Linked DNA regions of Homo sapiens. Changing the gene in region 1 together with any one later gene gives a genetic interaction. Each region holds a gene or a part of one and is shown on either strand. Other genes may lie near its edges. The genes, in order: YWHAQ and NRIP1.

Region 1 (7,284 bases):
ATGGTATTTTATATAATATTAACTGAGCGTATCTGTGGTTATTTTTCCAAAATGTAAAAAGGATCTTCTCTCTTCCCTGCTTTAAAACGTTCACTAGTTTCACTTTTCCTAGAGCAGTGCTTTTCAAACTGTGTACCTAGGCTGATACTAGCTAACATTTACTGAGTACTTAACATGTGACACTATTCCAGGCTTTGACATCTGTTACTGGTTTTATTCTCAAAACAAACCAATGAAGTAGGTATTAGTATCTTAACATTTTTATGAGAATTTCATTTTGCTTTGTAATATTTAATACAAAAAAGCTTTTTTTGTTTTTGTTTTTGTTTTTTGAGATGGAGTCCACACTGTCACCCGGGCTGCAGTGCAGTAGCATGATCTCGGCTCACTGCAACCTCCACCTCCCAGGTTCAAGCAATTCTCCTGCCTCAGCCTCCTGAGTAGCTGGGATTACAGGTGCCCACCATCACGCTTGGCTAATTTTTTGTATTTTTAGTAGAGACGGGGTTTCATTATGTTGGCCAGGCTGGTCTCGAACTCCTGACCTTGTTATCTGCCCGCCTTGGCATCCTAAAGTGCTGGGATTACAGCCGTGAGCCACCGCGCCCGGCCCTAAAAAGGTTTTTAAATGGATGACCTAGCATCAAGAAAAATGGAATCTAAGAAGATTTCTATCATATTTGTCTTTTGTGACTTTTTATACTCCAAGGCATAGCATACCATGTACTAGAAGTGAAAATTTCTTTGTATGAAATTAGGGACAAAAGACATACTCAAGAACTTTTTTAAAAAAATAATTAGATTTCGTAGACCTAAAATTATTCTTTTAAATTGCTGTGCAAGTTTCTAAACCTCTTACTCTCGATTCCTGTATTTACCTCATTTTAGATGGATACTTGAATGCAAAGGGCACTGAGTAGCACTATTCTCCCTCGTACTTGATGTTTTAAACATTTTGTTTCCCGTCCCTAAAATGAGTGCACATCCCTGTTTTCTGTTTGGTGCATTTCTACTTTTCCTTCTTCATGCCTCAAATACTCTTTCCCTGGGAAGCCTGTCTTAACTGGAGGCCATCTCCAGCAGAGCTACTCCATCTGTGTGCTTCCTTAGCACCGTATTCACATCTTTCTTAGTTCTTGGTATGTAGTTGGTGTACTTACAGACGGTGAGCTTCTTGAGGGCAGGGGCCTGATTTTAAGTCTTCTCTATATCCGTTATAGCACCTAGCAGGTATGAGTAAATGTTGAATGAATGGATGAGTGAACAGATAGGCTGTTTCAAATTACAATGTTTGGTGTAATCTAGAATCTAGCCTTACCATTAGAAACTATAGGCTACATCATTTAAAGCCTCCCAGGGCAACTAGTGGCAACAACCTAACCCCTGCTCTAAGAACATGCTTCAAGTCCAGGCTGGTATGGTATAGTATTACTGTAGTAGTAAATGATTGAAATGCCCGCTAGGCAGAAGTTTTATCATTTAATGATAATGCACAGTAGGCAGAAGTTTAGTGCCTAATGTTCTGTCTTATTTATTTCAGGAATTGTTGGATAAATATTTAATAGCCAATGCAACTAATCCAGAGAGTAAGGTCTTCTATCTGAAAATGAAGGGTGATTACTTCCGGTACCTTGCTGAAGTTGCGTGTGGTGATGATCGAAAACGTAAGTTTATTTGTTATATGGGCAAAAGTAGAATATAAAAAAAAGAAATGGGGATAAATGGGACACTATGACAGTATACGTAGTCTTCAGGCTCTTTGTGACTTAATAATTGAATGTATGTCAAGAAAATTAGTATTACCTTATGTTCTCAAAAATGAAAATTGGATTATAAATTTACATCACATGCTCTTTAAAAAAATTAAGCTCATCTGTGAACTCTGTAATCTCATATGGTATTATTTAAAACAGGATTAATCTTTTATGCTTTTTAGAATTTTGGTTCACCATATTTTTAGCTCCAGAGTTTTTTGTGTAAACTTTATGAGTGATTCTGCATTTCACATGGCCTTTCTATTATGCCTTAAAACTTCAGATCACTGGAAATTACATACAGAACGTGGAAACAGGTTGTTGTGCTTTTGCTGTTTGTCATATTCATTATCGTCTATTTTAAGGGGTCATAACATTGACTGCTAATTACATATAATCAGATTTCTGAGGAGAGGTGAAATGAGTGTGTTATTGCTGGTGTATAACTTGCTCCAACTTCACAGTAAGTTTGAATGACTCATGGTTAGGTTTTACTTGAGAAGGTTGAATATACAGGAACTGTTGATTAATCAAGTAGTGGTCATAAAAATAGATTTTAGTATTAAATACCTTTTTTTTTTAACCTAGACTATCATAGAAAACATGGATATGAGAAAAAGTGACCGAATTGCCTAACTTGATAATAAAAAAGTGAAGTGAATTTATTTGCAGTGAATGTCTCTTGGGATACTGGCAGCTGAATATAAGATAGATCTCATTAAATTTAGTGTATGTGCTTGCTACCAGATTTATCAAGTTCTAGGTATTAGAAGTGTCAGTCCTTATTTTTTCCAGTAAGTTTGTTGTTTTGTTCTTAATTTTGCCCTGTCTACAAAGATATACCCCTACAAATAGTTACTATGATCTGAAAATGAGAGTTTTGCCATCCTAAATATCAGTGTAACTGAATATATAAAGAGAACTTGTACCTGAGAAACTGTTATACCTTGCTATAACAAAATCTATATACTAAACTTACTTATTCTGTTACTGATGTGTAATTTCTGTTGCCATGAAGGTAAGCAGAATTGGACATGATACGGGCACGGAACTGTACATTTAAGTATCAGAAAGCCAAAGAGAAGTATTTGGGAGATTGAGACATAGCTGTAGCTTTAACCTGATTTAACCCTTAGGAGCTCATTGGCACTTTCAGGTCTCACACGTAGTCCTGTGTACATTCTGATAGGCTGCGATTCATAGATAGGCTGTCTTTATAGCCTAATTGCTGAGACACTGGTGCTTCCTAATTTGCCAAGCTGCAAGAACTTCTTATTGCATGTGGGCTGTACCAGTCAGGGATTAGATCAATAAATGTGCCATTTCAGAGGAAAGAAAATGAACATAATTCAGGTCATAAAGGGATAGCTTAATTCTCTTACGTCAGTATCTCTAAAGCTGTAATAGGCCAGTGGCCTCATACAGAAAACTACCCTTTTCAAAACATGGGTATAATCAGATTAGTGTTGGTAATACTGAACATTTTTTGAAGGGGGAGTAACATTTTAATTAGGCTAGTAATCAAACTCTGGTCAGAGCAGATTTTGTCCTATTTATTGAAACTTTTATATTGCCTTTCAAATAATACCACTTGATACTAAGAATCAGTATTTCTGCAAATCAGAAAAATAGAGATTTTGGTGTTGATGATCTTTGTAAAGTTTACATTATTTAGGGAAAGGGTATTCCAGTCAAATTATTATTATTATTATTAATTTTGAATGGAGTTTTGCTCTTGTTGCCCAGGTTGAAGTGCAATGGCGCGATCTTGGCTCACCGTAAGCTCCGCCTCCCGGGTTCAAGTGAGGCTTGTGCCTAGCCTCCCAAGTAGCTGGGATTACAGGCATGCATCACCACTCCCATCTAATTTTTGTATTATTAGTAGAGACGGGGTTTCTCCATGTTGGTAAGGCTGGTCTTGTACCTCCAACCTCAGGTGATCTGCCTGCCTCAGCCTCCCAAAGTGTTAGGATTACAGGCGTGAGCCACTGTAAATTATTCCAGTCAAATTATTTTTAATTGCTGCATTTCCAAGTAATAGAATTAAAAGACATAAAATAAGAAAATAGTTTTAGCCTAGGTATGGAAAAAAGTCTGATTTACTATAATATCTCATGTTTTTTTTCCATTAAGCTGTTTATATGTAAGCAACATTCTAAACTGGTTTTTTGTTTTGTTTGTTTGTTTGAGACAAACTGTCACTGAGGTTGGGAGTGCAGCAGCATGATCTTGGCTCACTGCAGCTTCAACCTCCTGGGCTCAAGGGGTCCTCCCACCTCAGCCTCCCAAGTAGCTAGAGCTACAGGCACGCACTACCATGCCTAGCTATTTTTTATTATTATTATTTTTTGTAGAGACAGGGATAAGATCTCCCTGTGTTGCCCAGGCTGGTCTTGAACTCTTCAGGTTCAAGTGATCCCCCTGCCTCACCTTCCCAAAGTGTTGGGATTAGAGGCATGAGCCACTGCACCTGGCCATAAACAAGTTCTTAAATACCCAGTACACAATATTGTTTTTGTTTGTTTGTTTTTGACACAGAGTATCGTTCTGTTGCCCAAGCTGGAGTGCAGTGGTGTGATGTCGGCTCACTGCAACCTCAGCCTCCCAGGTTCAAGCGATTCTCATGCCTCAGCCTCCTGAGTAGCTGGGATTACAGATGCCCGCCATCACGCCTGGCTAATTTTTGTATTTTTAGTAGAGATGGGGTTTCGCCATGTTGGCTAGACTGGTCTTGAACTCCTGATCTCAAGTGATCCACCCACCTCGGCCTCCCAAAGTGCTGGGATTATAGGCGTGAGCCACCGCGCCTGGCCACGATAATGTTTTTTGTTAGCTACCATGATTTTAAAAGACCCATACAGAGAAAAAATCTTGGTTCTACCAAGAGCTAGTAGCATATGTTCAAGTTGTTAATGTACTGTGTACTGGATGGTTATTTTTAATATTGCACTTCTTATTTTTCGCTCTTCACAGAAACGATAGATAATTCCCAAGGAGCTTACCAAGAGGCATTTGATATAAGCAAGAAAGAGATGCAACCCACACACCCAATCCGCCTGGGGCTTGCTCTTAACTTTTCTGTATTTTACTATGAGATTCTTAATAACCCAGAGCTTGCCTGCACGCTGGCTAAAACGGTAAGATGTGTGTCCAGGAAATACGTACTTTAGCTACAGTTATTTGAGATACCAGGTATGTTAATTTATAGGTATTTTACTTGGATACCCAGGGATGATTTCTACTATATTTATTTTGAAATCTCCTCTTTTTCTTCCCATCATGATTACCTACTCCTACCCCTGACACCTTACTCTACCCTATGATTATAAGCAGTGATGTGCCTACAGAGCATACTGAGCAGAGTAATCAAAGAAGGATAAATGATGTTAAGAAGGAAACATAAAAGATTAGAAAGTCATGCCTGCCAGGTTTGGTTACTAGAATAGCTGTGCATCAGCCACATTCCTCAAAGTGGCTCAAAACGAGAGAATAAAGAGGACCCTGTAGAGATAAGTACTACTTAACTGGAAAGAAGTCTGTTAAGCATTGCTGCTGTTCCGTTGTCCTGTGAAAGAACCAAGACATGCTTGTTTACTAAGTGTATAGTTTTATAAAATTCCAGTCATACTCATAAGTTCTTAAACTGGGAGTGTGAGAGAATGGTTCTGTTGAGTTTGTTGATGGTAGAACATAAGGTGGGTGTTCACTTATTTTGTAAAAATGGTTTGTAATTGTAGAATAACCAGTTTTCGTCAATGCACATATTTTACCATGGATATTAATATTTATCAGGCTTTTGATGAGGCCATTGCTGAACTTGATACACTGAATGAAGACTCATACAAAGACAGCACCCTCATCATGCAGTTGCTTAGAGACAACCTAACAGTGAGTTGTTTACTCTTTTAATTTTATTTTCTTTTCAGAAACAAAAGTATTTATATTTTATTTTGGACTTCGTGTCTTTTAGGGAAGATACATACGAGCTGAAAGTATGAGATACGTGTTAGTATTTTATGGGACGAACATTATTTTGTAGGCAGGTTTTCAAGTTGAATAGGCATTTTATCAGACCTTCCTGAGAAGGTTCTAACATGATAGGAACTCAATATTAATATTACTATTTCATTGGGATGAAGATGTTGATAAATTATGTTAATAAAGAGCTTATCAAGTTTCAATATTTTGGGGCAAATCAGCTATAGCCAGTTAGGGACTATCTAAATATCTACGCTTTCTTAAAATCACAGGAAGTACCTTGTTCTAATAAAAGTTTACTTTGTGAATTGTGCATGATGTTCTACAAGCATTTAGGGAGTAAACCTATACCTAAACTTACTCCTTCTCTGCTTCTAGGCAAAAGCTTCTGTTTTGTTTGTCTTTTTCTCCCTGCTTCTTAGATAGGCAATTGATAAAGGAAGTAATCAAGAAAAAGTACAGCTTAAGCTTTACTTTAACATTCTTTTGTAGGTTCAAGTAAATTTGATAGGTAAAATCTTAGACTTCACAGAAGGAAAAAGAAGGGAACAAATCTTTTAATATAGATCTCGTCCTCCCAGCCCCCTAGTTTGGTGCTTTATCATTTACTAGATAGGATTTTTTAAATATTAGCACCATGTCTATTCAATTTTGCTGAATAGGGTAATTATGAATCCACTGAAAGGGGAACGAAGACCCTGCATTTCTAGCCATGAGAAGTGCCTGTGGTTGTGAGGGGACAATGGAAGATGATCAGCAAATAGTTCTACAGAGGAAGAGCAAATTAGGCAGTTATACCTCTTCCCAGATGTATACCTTGGAGCTAACTATCTTTTAATCGGTTTTGTTTTGTTATCTCTATTATGGAGACAGGTCTTTGGGGGATTTTGTTTTGTTTGTTTTTATTTAGTATCTTCATAATAATCTAAGGATTATGTAAGATTCTGGCTTTTCTGAAATTAACACTAATGTCTTGCTGTTGGTCTAATAAAGTGCAATTATAGTCAATAAATACTGACTTCTCTTCTTCACTTCATCTTCCTATCCTAAAATCAGAGAGATCCTGGAAGATCCACTTAGTTTTAACATTCTGTCTAATTCAAGAACCCTGTCTATACATGCACACATTGCTTCCCTGTAGCTTCCATCACCCACTTCTATTTAATTCTTGGAGAAACACAAAGTAAGTCTGCTTTTCCTATAGTTTAGCCCTTCACACACTTGAAAATTGTTAACCATGATTGTGGCTTTTTCCTCCCTGTGAAAATGTTTTGCTTTATTAGTCTGTAATAATAATGCAGTAGTGCTTTCAAGAAGAGCATTGGGCTGCTGGGAATAGAGACTATCACTTTGCTTATTCTGAAAGTAGAGTGCCTTTTTAAAAAAGTTTCTCTTTTTTTTTTTTTTTTTTGAGAAAGGATCTCACCCTGTTGCCTAGGCTGGAGTGCAGTGTCATAATCATGGATCACTCCAGCCTCAACCTCCTGGATTCAAGCAGTCCTCCTGCCTCAGCCTCCTGAGTAGTTAGGACTGTAGGCACACACCACCCCGT
Region 2 (7,284 bases), on another chromosome or scaffold:
TCAATGTGAATTAAAGTGATAATCTGTTTTGCTGGTAGTTTATATGTGGTAAAGCAGTCTATTAAATGAGAGACCTTAGGGAGGCAGCTTTGTTGCCATGTGGCTTATCACATTGTCCATGGAGGAAGTAATGTTCCTCCTTTAAGTGGTGTAGCCTGAGAGAAAGATGGCCTCCAAGATCTTTAATTAAATACCAGTTGAACAGAAAGAACTAGAGCACTGTATTAATTCTGTCAAACATCACTATTTTAGAACATTGAGGACAACTAAAAATGAATTAACGCATATCTGAAAGCAGAGTTTGATAGAAGGTGACAGATGAGGCAAAATATGCCAATCTAATGGAACAAATAAGATAAGGAGATATGCCATCCTTGACTCTAGAAAGATCAGAGGGAAGAAGATTATTGTTAATTGCACAGATTCTATTGCAGACCAATGCTAGAAGACAATGACATAGAAGTAATTTTAAATCAGAGTGGCTTAGGATATATGAGGTTAAAGGAATTTGGCTTTTAATTTTAAAACGTAAAGAATGTAAGAAACTCAAAAGCTCATGTTCTAACTGTTGTTTGGGAAAAGCAGTAATAGTTTGGTGTATCAGGTTAAAAGATAATTTTGCTCAGAATGAGTTTAAAATACCGAATTTTTGTCAAGGAAAACATTATTCACTTTAAATTGTGCTAGGGTCAGTTTTGCTTTTCGCATTTGAGATTGCTTGATACAATTAGTTTTTAATGTAGGTTAGTAAGAGGAAATGGTAGTCCCTTCCCTACCATTTCCCTCCCTCCCTTGCTCTCTTCCCCTTTTCTAAAATAAACACTGTCTAGATCTTTGGATATTTTCTTCCATGAAAAACTGCCTTAGTTGCAGCGTTCCTTCTTGGCTGTGGGTGGGGAGAAGTTTCTTCACTCTTGTACTTTTCCCTTCTGCCCCTTCAGGTGATTGATACACAATCAGAGTGGGTTTTGTTCTGTGTGTTTGTTTAATAACGATTTACTGTTACACGGATGAAGACTGGGAAAAAGCATTTGCCGTTCTAGCAAAGTCCTGTATACCCATGTCTTCCAACTGGAGAAATATTTTCATTAAAATAATCTTGACTACTGTTGAAAAGTCAAAGAAAATTTTCAACAAGATATGCTAGGGTCTTGCAGGATATGAGTTTGAATCTGTGAACTAAAAAGGTTCAAGTTGCATTTCCTTAAGTTGTAGTTTTTTCAGGGACTTTTGGGGGAGGGGGAATGAGCAGGCTCATCCTGTAGTATTTAGATAACACAACAATTAGAGAAATGTAACACCACTATGGCCACTAAGACTTGAGAAGGTAAAAACCAGGAGTGTCAGATGGTGAAACAGGCCATTGGAATGGAACTGAAGATTATGTCGAGAGGTTGGAATGAACAAAAAGTAAATGGAGGAGAGAGATCTAGTTTCTGTATCCTGTTTGCATCTGATGCTGAAGCAGAGACATGAATTGCTGATGGTAATGGATTCTATTCTCTTTTAGGAGGCCAGCAATATTATATAAATAGTGGTTGTTTGAGGGAGAGAAACGACAAGTTCCCCTTTTGTGCATGTTCACACTTTGTTTTGAATGTCTCTGAGATATCTTTAAAGTAGAGGATCAAAATTGGGTACCAGCATGGAATCAGGAGTTATACTTTGGAGGAAAATGAATTAATATTAGATCACATTTTCTTTAATCTTTTAAGATCTGGAATTTTACAAGGGTCTTCATCAACAGGGAAAACCGTGTTCTGAGTGCTAAAGTTTGGGTGGTGAACTGGATAATTCTTTTATAGGATCTCTGATAAAGATAAACATGTAAATAACTGCAGAAATAATGCTTTATTTAAGCACATTACCTATGATTCATGGTAGGGGGAAAATAGAGACCACAGAAACTCCTGAAGTCTTATCAGGGTTTCTTTGCAAACTATTATATGGATGCCCATCTGTTGTTTTTTCTTGAAATTTAGTGTTCAGGTTGATGGATACTGAATGTATAGGATTCTGAAGGTTGGAGTTTATTTAAAACAGAACTTTCCTTTTGTTTTACTACGAGTTATGAAATGCAGTTTTAATTTGTTGCAATAAATATAGAAACTGAGATGAGTAGGAATTTATACTAACTTTTCTCACTGTTATGGTACATACTCTATATCATGAACCTTGAAATTCAAATTGATCCCTACACTATCTTGCAAATATTACAAATGAAGAATTACAAAAGTTGTGGTATTTTAGCTTATCAAAATGCACCCGAAACATAAAATATTTTTCTTTAAGTTCTTAAATCAGAAGAATAGGAAAGAGTTGAAAATAAATGTGATACATTTTATCATTATATTAGTATTTTGTTGAAATTAATACCTTGAATCATGCTATGGATAAACATTTAGCCTAGAACTCTAAAAGTAGTATAATGTGAATCAGATTTAAAGAATTGAGAAGGCTGGCAATTCAAAAATAGAGGAAGAAAACACTCTTTGGGGTTATGAAAAAAAGGATCCTCTTAGTATTAAGATTTCTTAAAAAGCTATACACAGTTTTAAGATAGATTGTTCTTGAAGATAATGGGGCAAATAATTACCTGCTAAACAAATTATGAGTCCTGTGATTCTTTTTTTGGTTGAAATAATTTCAAGAACTCCAGCATATGTTGCAGTTTTGGCTAGAAAGGTGATTGTGACATACATCCATTCATCCATTCTCCCTCTCTCCTTCCCTCCTTCCCTCCCTTCCTTCTTTCCACTTTCAATACATAGGGCTGGGGTAGCAAAAAAAAATAATAATAGTAAACAGTTTTGTAAAACTTGATAATAGAATTATCTGACAGGGTTAATAGTTGTGTTTGAAATTCAGAGCTAGTATGGTTCACTCTCCCCAGAAAATAAAATTTTAATTTCTTACACCTCAGGGAATAAAAACTCTAAATTAAAACCCATCTTGCCTCTTTAACTTTGTGTCACTTAGCAAAAATATCTTTAAGGATGGAAAGAAGAGACCCCATGTGTCTTAAATTCCAAGTCACTGTGTGACTAAGCTCGGAGTTCCAATAAATATTAAACTAGAATTCTGCTGGGAATTTGAGTCATCCGCTTAAGCTACTCCTGGGACCAAGACAACTCTGGTTGACCTGATGTTGATGTTTATTCAGAGCTTTGGTGGAAAGGAGCCTCTCACCCTTGGACTTCTAATTAACAAAGTCATTCCTTAGTCACTTGTTAAGTGATAGAGCTACTCCTTGTTTTCAGGCCTGTAATTTGCTAAAGGATTGAGCACAACAGAGAAACTAAGGAGTTTGGAGCTTCTGCTGTTTAGAGTCTGCTTTCATTATTTTACTTTTACTTTCTTATCTAGCTATGTGAGGGTACTATGTAAAAGTCTGGTGATTTGCTTTAGATACTTAAGAGAAAAGCTTAGCTGTAGTCACATATAGTGTCTAAGATGGCTTTCCTTATAGTTACATGTTTTTAATAGTTGAGTTTGCCTATACTCTTCATAACATGTGCACATGTTAAATATGTTACTGCTTTAAAAAAGCATTTCATTAGTAAGATGGGGAATCGTTTATGTACAATATTGAAATGAGAGTAGTAGTATAATGGTGTGTTTGGTAACTAACAGGACACAATCAAAATTTGAGAATTAGAAGTTCAGAATGAAAAAAGGACTTCTCTCTTGAGGAATCTATCTAGAAGTTGAGAGATAGCAAGTGTTTAACAGAGTGTAATGATTTCTGAGAAGCATGCTTTTAAAGATTTTTTTTAAATTCCTGAATTTATGAGTTTATATTATAATAATCTATAATAGAGCAATAGATTTATACACTGGAAAAGAAACAAATTAAGGGAAGGAGAGAATACACAATGACATGGAGGACATCAAGAAAATATGTTTGGAAACATGTGAAACTCTCCAAATGGGAAATAAATATTCTTGAGAGAAATTAATCACAGTTGCAGTTTTTCTCCTAAAGGGACTGTTTGCACAATGGGTTATGTAGGCTCAGGTTTGATTTTTGAAAAACATGTTAAAAAATAGTATTCCTGTTATTCCACGTTTATTTTTCGAGTTTAGGTTCTGCTACTAAATCAAGATGATACAGATAAAAGGAAAGCCCTTTTATCTCCCCCGGCAGCATCTGTTGAATAAGGGGGTTATATTTGATTTCTAAATTCTAAAATTCTGACTGTACAGCAGTATATGCCGTTGTTGACAGTAAACAGTAAAGATTTCAAGCCTGTGGTTTTAAAAGAAGAAGAGATGATTGGGTAGAAACTTGGAATATTAAGAAGTTGTTTAGTTACTTGGCTGTTGCCTTTTCCTGTTTTGTTGGGAGGGGGAGCAGGGAAAGGAAGAGTATTGAACTTTTTGGGGCAACCGTTTTGTGCCAGACATTGTGCTGGAAGCTTTACACACATTTTGTCTTTTAATCCTTCCAGTTCCCCTGTGACATGTAGGTATCATTTTCTCTAGTTTAGAGATAAGGAAACCTAGTCTGAAAAATGCAAGAATAGTTAACTTGCCTGTGGTCACATGGCAAATTTCATTGATAATTTGATTTTCTTAAAGAATATGCCATTGTTTGAAGAAAAAACCAGTTGCCATCTGACATTCAGGAAGCCGTTAAAAAACCTTGCTCCCAACCTGGTAGCCATAAAACTCATGCAGCATTTGCAAGCCTCATAGCCTGGATTCTCCAAGACCAGGCTCTCTGGGAAGGCACATTGTTGCCAGTCGATGATTCTGCAGCAGCTTATGCTAGTTCTCAAAGCGCTGATGTCCTGCTACCTGCATTGCGCTGGAGGGAAATGTAGTCACCAAGGGCTGCCGCACAGGCTCTTTTCCCTCCAGTGCTAACTCTTCTGAAGTGTATCACAGAATTACTGCGGTGTTATTTGAGGCAGTGAAAGCAACTATGTTTCTTTATATAATTCATTGAAATAGCTTGTCATGGTCTTAAACTGAGTGTTCCCAAGGCTAGTTATGTTTGTCCACTTCAAGGAGCAGTTGTAGCAAATTCAGAACCATAGCTCTTCCTGGTTGAAAAGTTACAACTCTTGACTATTAACAGTTCTTAACATGATTTTTTTTTTAATTACCCTATCTTCACTCACAACAATTTTGTTAAAGACTATCCTGTGCTGATAAACTGCTCTCTGAAATGCAAAGAGGAAATTAACAATGTATTTGTGAATTGGAAGGAAGTGGAAGCAGAGAGATGAGGAGTAGTTGACTTTATTTTGAGGGTAGACTGTGTCAGGAGGGAGATTGTTGAGTGGGGGAGCTTTGTGGCACATAGTACATTTTTAAGTACATACCAGGTACGTTCTTTTATTGTTAAAGCCATAAGAAATGGAGTTATGAGCTTCTCCACCTCCTTTTACTTGCCTCATTTAAAATTTATGGAATTTTTGAACCTAAAAGATTCAAGCTGAGTGGTTCCCTATACACTGAAAGGTATAGTCAAATTGAAACTATATTGGAGACACAAAGATGAATAATAAGACGTGTAAACATAATATTTTCTAGGGTGCTTTGGATTTTGAGTTGCCAAATCATGTTGGAAAAGCAAGAGATTTGTATAAAAGCTGCAAAGGAAACATCTGTGTTTTGTTTAGAGAATACGTTATATTTTGGCCAAATAAGAAAAAAGAGAAATTGTCAAAGTGAACAATATGGGGGGAAGAATGTCTTCCTAAAGATCAGAATGAACTTATATTATTTCCTTAACTGATCCATGCTTTTTAAAAAAAAATGAATTAAAATACACTGAATCTATGTGAAGCCAAATATAAGGATTGAAAACAGTCTTTTTTAAATTTACCATCTGATTCCTTTCCAATATCTGGATGTTTGCTATTATTGTGGCAAGACCCATTGTTAACTGTATTGCTAAAAATCTACTTTTATCTATCCTGGTAATACTTGACTGACCTGAGTCAAAGTCACATTTTCTTTTTTTTTTTTTTTTAACTTTGAATTTCTTTTGCTTGGGCTTTCACAAATTGAAGTTATTTCATAGAATCGTTAGATTTTTCAGGTTGGAAGAGAATTTGATAAAAGCTACGGCTGCTCTGGATTTAAGCACACCTATCTTAGAGGCACCTTGTCCTCCCCCCATTTATCAAACAAGTTAGTTTTTAGATGCATCTTTTGTATGGAAGAGCACACAGTTAGTGTAGACTATAAATAAAATAATGATAAAATGCTACCATTTAGTGCTTATGTGCCATTTTCTTTCCTTTTGGGTTTCCTTCTTTATTTCTGTTTTGTCTTTACTCTGTTTTCCTTTTTATTTCTTAATATCTCATTCATCTTTTTTTTTAATTGCCAGGGGATCCATGTGATACAATGGGGTCAATAATTACTTATCTTCCTGTAGTTTTTGTTATTGCTGTTAAGTTAAAATGCCCAAAACAGTTACTATCTGCATTTTACGGAGGAAGAAATTGAGTCCTTAAGAATTTAAAGACGTTTTGAAAGTCATTCAGCTAGCAGTTGGGTAGACCTAGGATGGTCAGTCAAATCTTGATTTATTTCACACTTTTTTGTTTATTTTTGTCAAAGCAGTCTCAGAAAGAGGGGTTTGTGTACCAGGTGTTAAGGAATAGTTAATAACCTTTGGTGATGGATCCCGCAGTAAAATCCAAGCTAACCCCACAAAGGGATCTATAATAATAAGAACTGGGTCTTGAGACATGAAACGAGAATTGGCTGGCTGCATCACTTTTGTTCTAGTACCTTATTTTCTTCTCATGGTCTTCATAAAAGTCTTAGGATTTGTTGAATATTCTAGTACTTGAAATGTAATTTCCAGGCTGAGAATTTAAAAAAAGAATAGTACAGTTATGTACATGTTCATGCAGTGGCATTGTTTTACATGTTACGTACATTTGGAATTTTATTTAAAAAGAAGTAGGGAGACTTGCTATTTATTTGCAGACAAAGAGAGCCAGATACCTTTAGTTGACCAGAACACTCACAGGCCAGCTCTACTTTTTACTGATGAGTAGTATTCCAACACCATTAATGTAGGTGGTTGGGTCTGTTGGTTCAACTGGAAACATATCTCAAAGTTTATGGACCCCATTCCTCTATTCTCTTGAGAAAGGTAACAAATAAGATGAGGGGGCACTGTGTGGACCAGTGGTGATAATGTGCCATGAACCAAGTGCACGTTGGTCTACACCCCTAGAAAAGAGAGCAAGAGAGAAGAAACCTATGTGTAGACCTTTTCATGGACCACACACTGGCCACGTTCCTGATGTTGGT

Evidence for each region.
Region 2: of YWHAQ (region 1) and NRIP1, changing one suppresses a phenotype caused by changing the other (phenotypic suppression), as found in Homo sapiens cells (one study listed by BioGRID).

The regions. Positions count from the first base shown.
Region 1 is NC_000002.12:9,585,772-9,593,055, reverse strand, and holds part of YWHAQ (14-3-3 protein theta), read left to right. Parts: intron 1-1,540; coding exon 1,541-1,664; intron 1,665-4,727; coding exon 4,728-4,891; intron 4,892-5,546; coding exon 5,547-5,642; intron 5,643-7,284. UniProt on the Homo sapiens protein: Adapter protein implicated in the regulation of a large spectrum of both general and specialized signaling pathways. Binds to a large number of partners, usually by recognition of a phosphoserine or phosphothreonine motif.
Region 2 is NC_000021.9:15,054,991-15,062,274, reverse strand, and holds part of NRIP1 (nuclear receptor-interacting protein 1), read left to right. Parts: intron 1-7,284. UniProt on the Homo sapiens protein: Modulates transcriptional activation by steroid receptors such as NR3C1, NR3C2 and ESR1. Also modulates transcriptional repression by nuclear hormone receptors.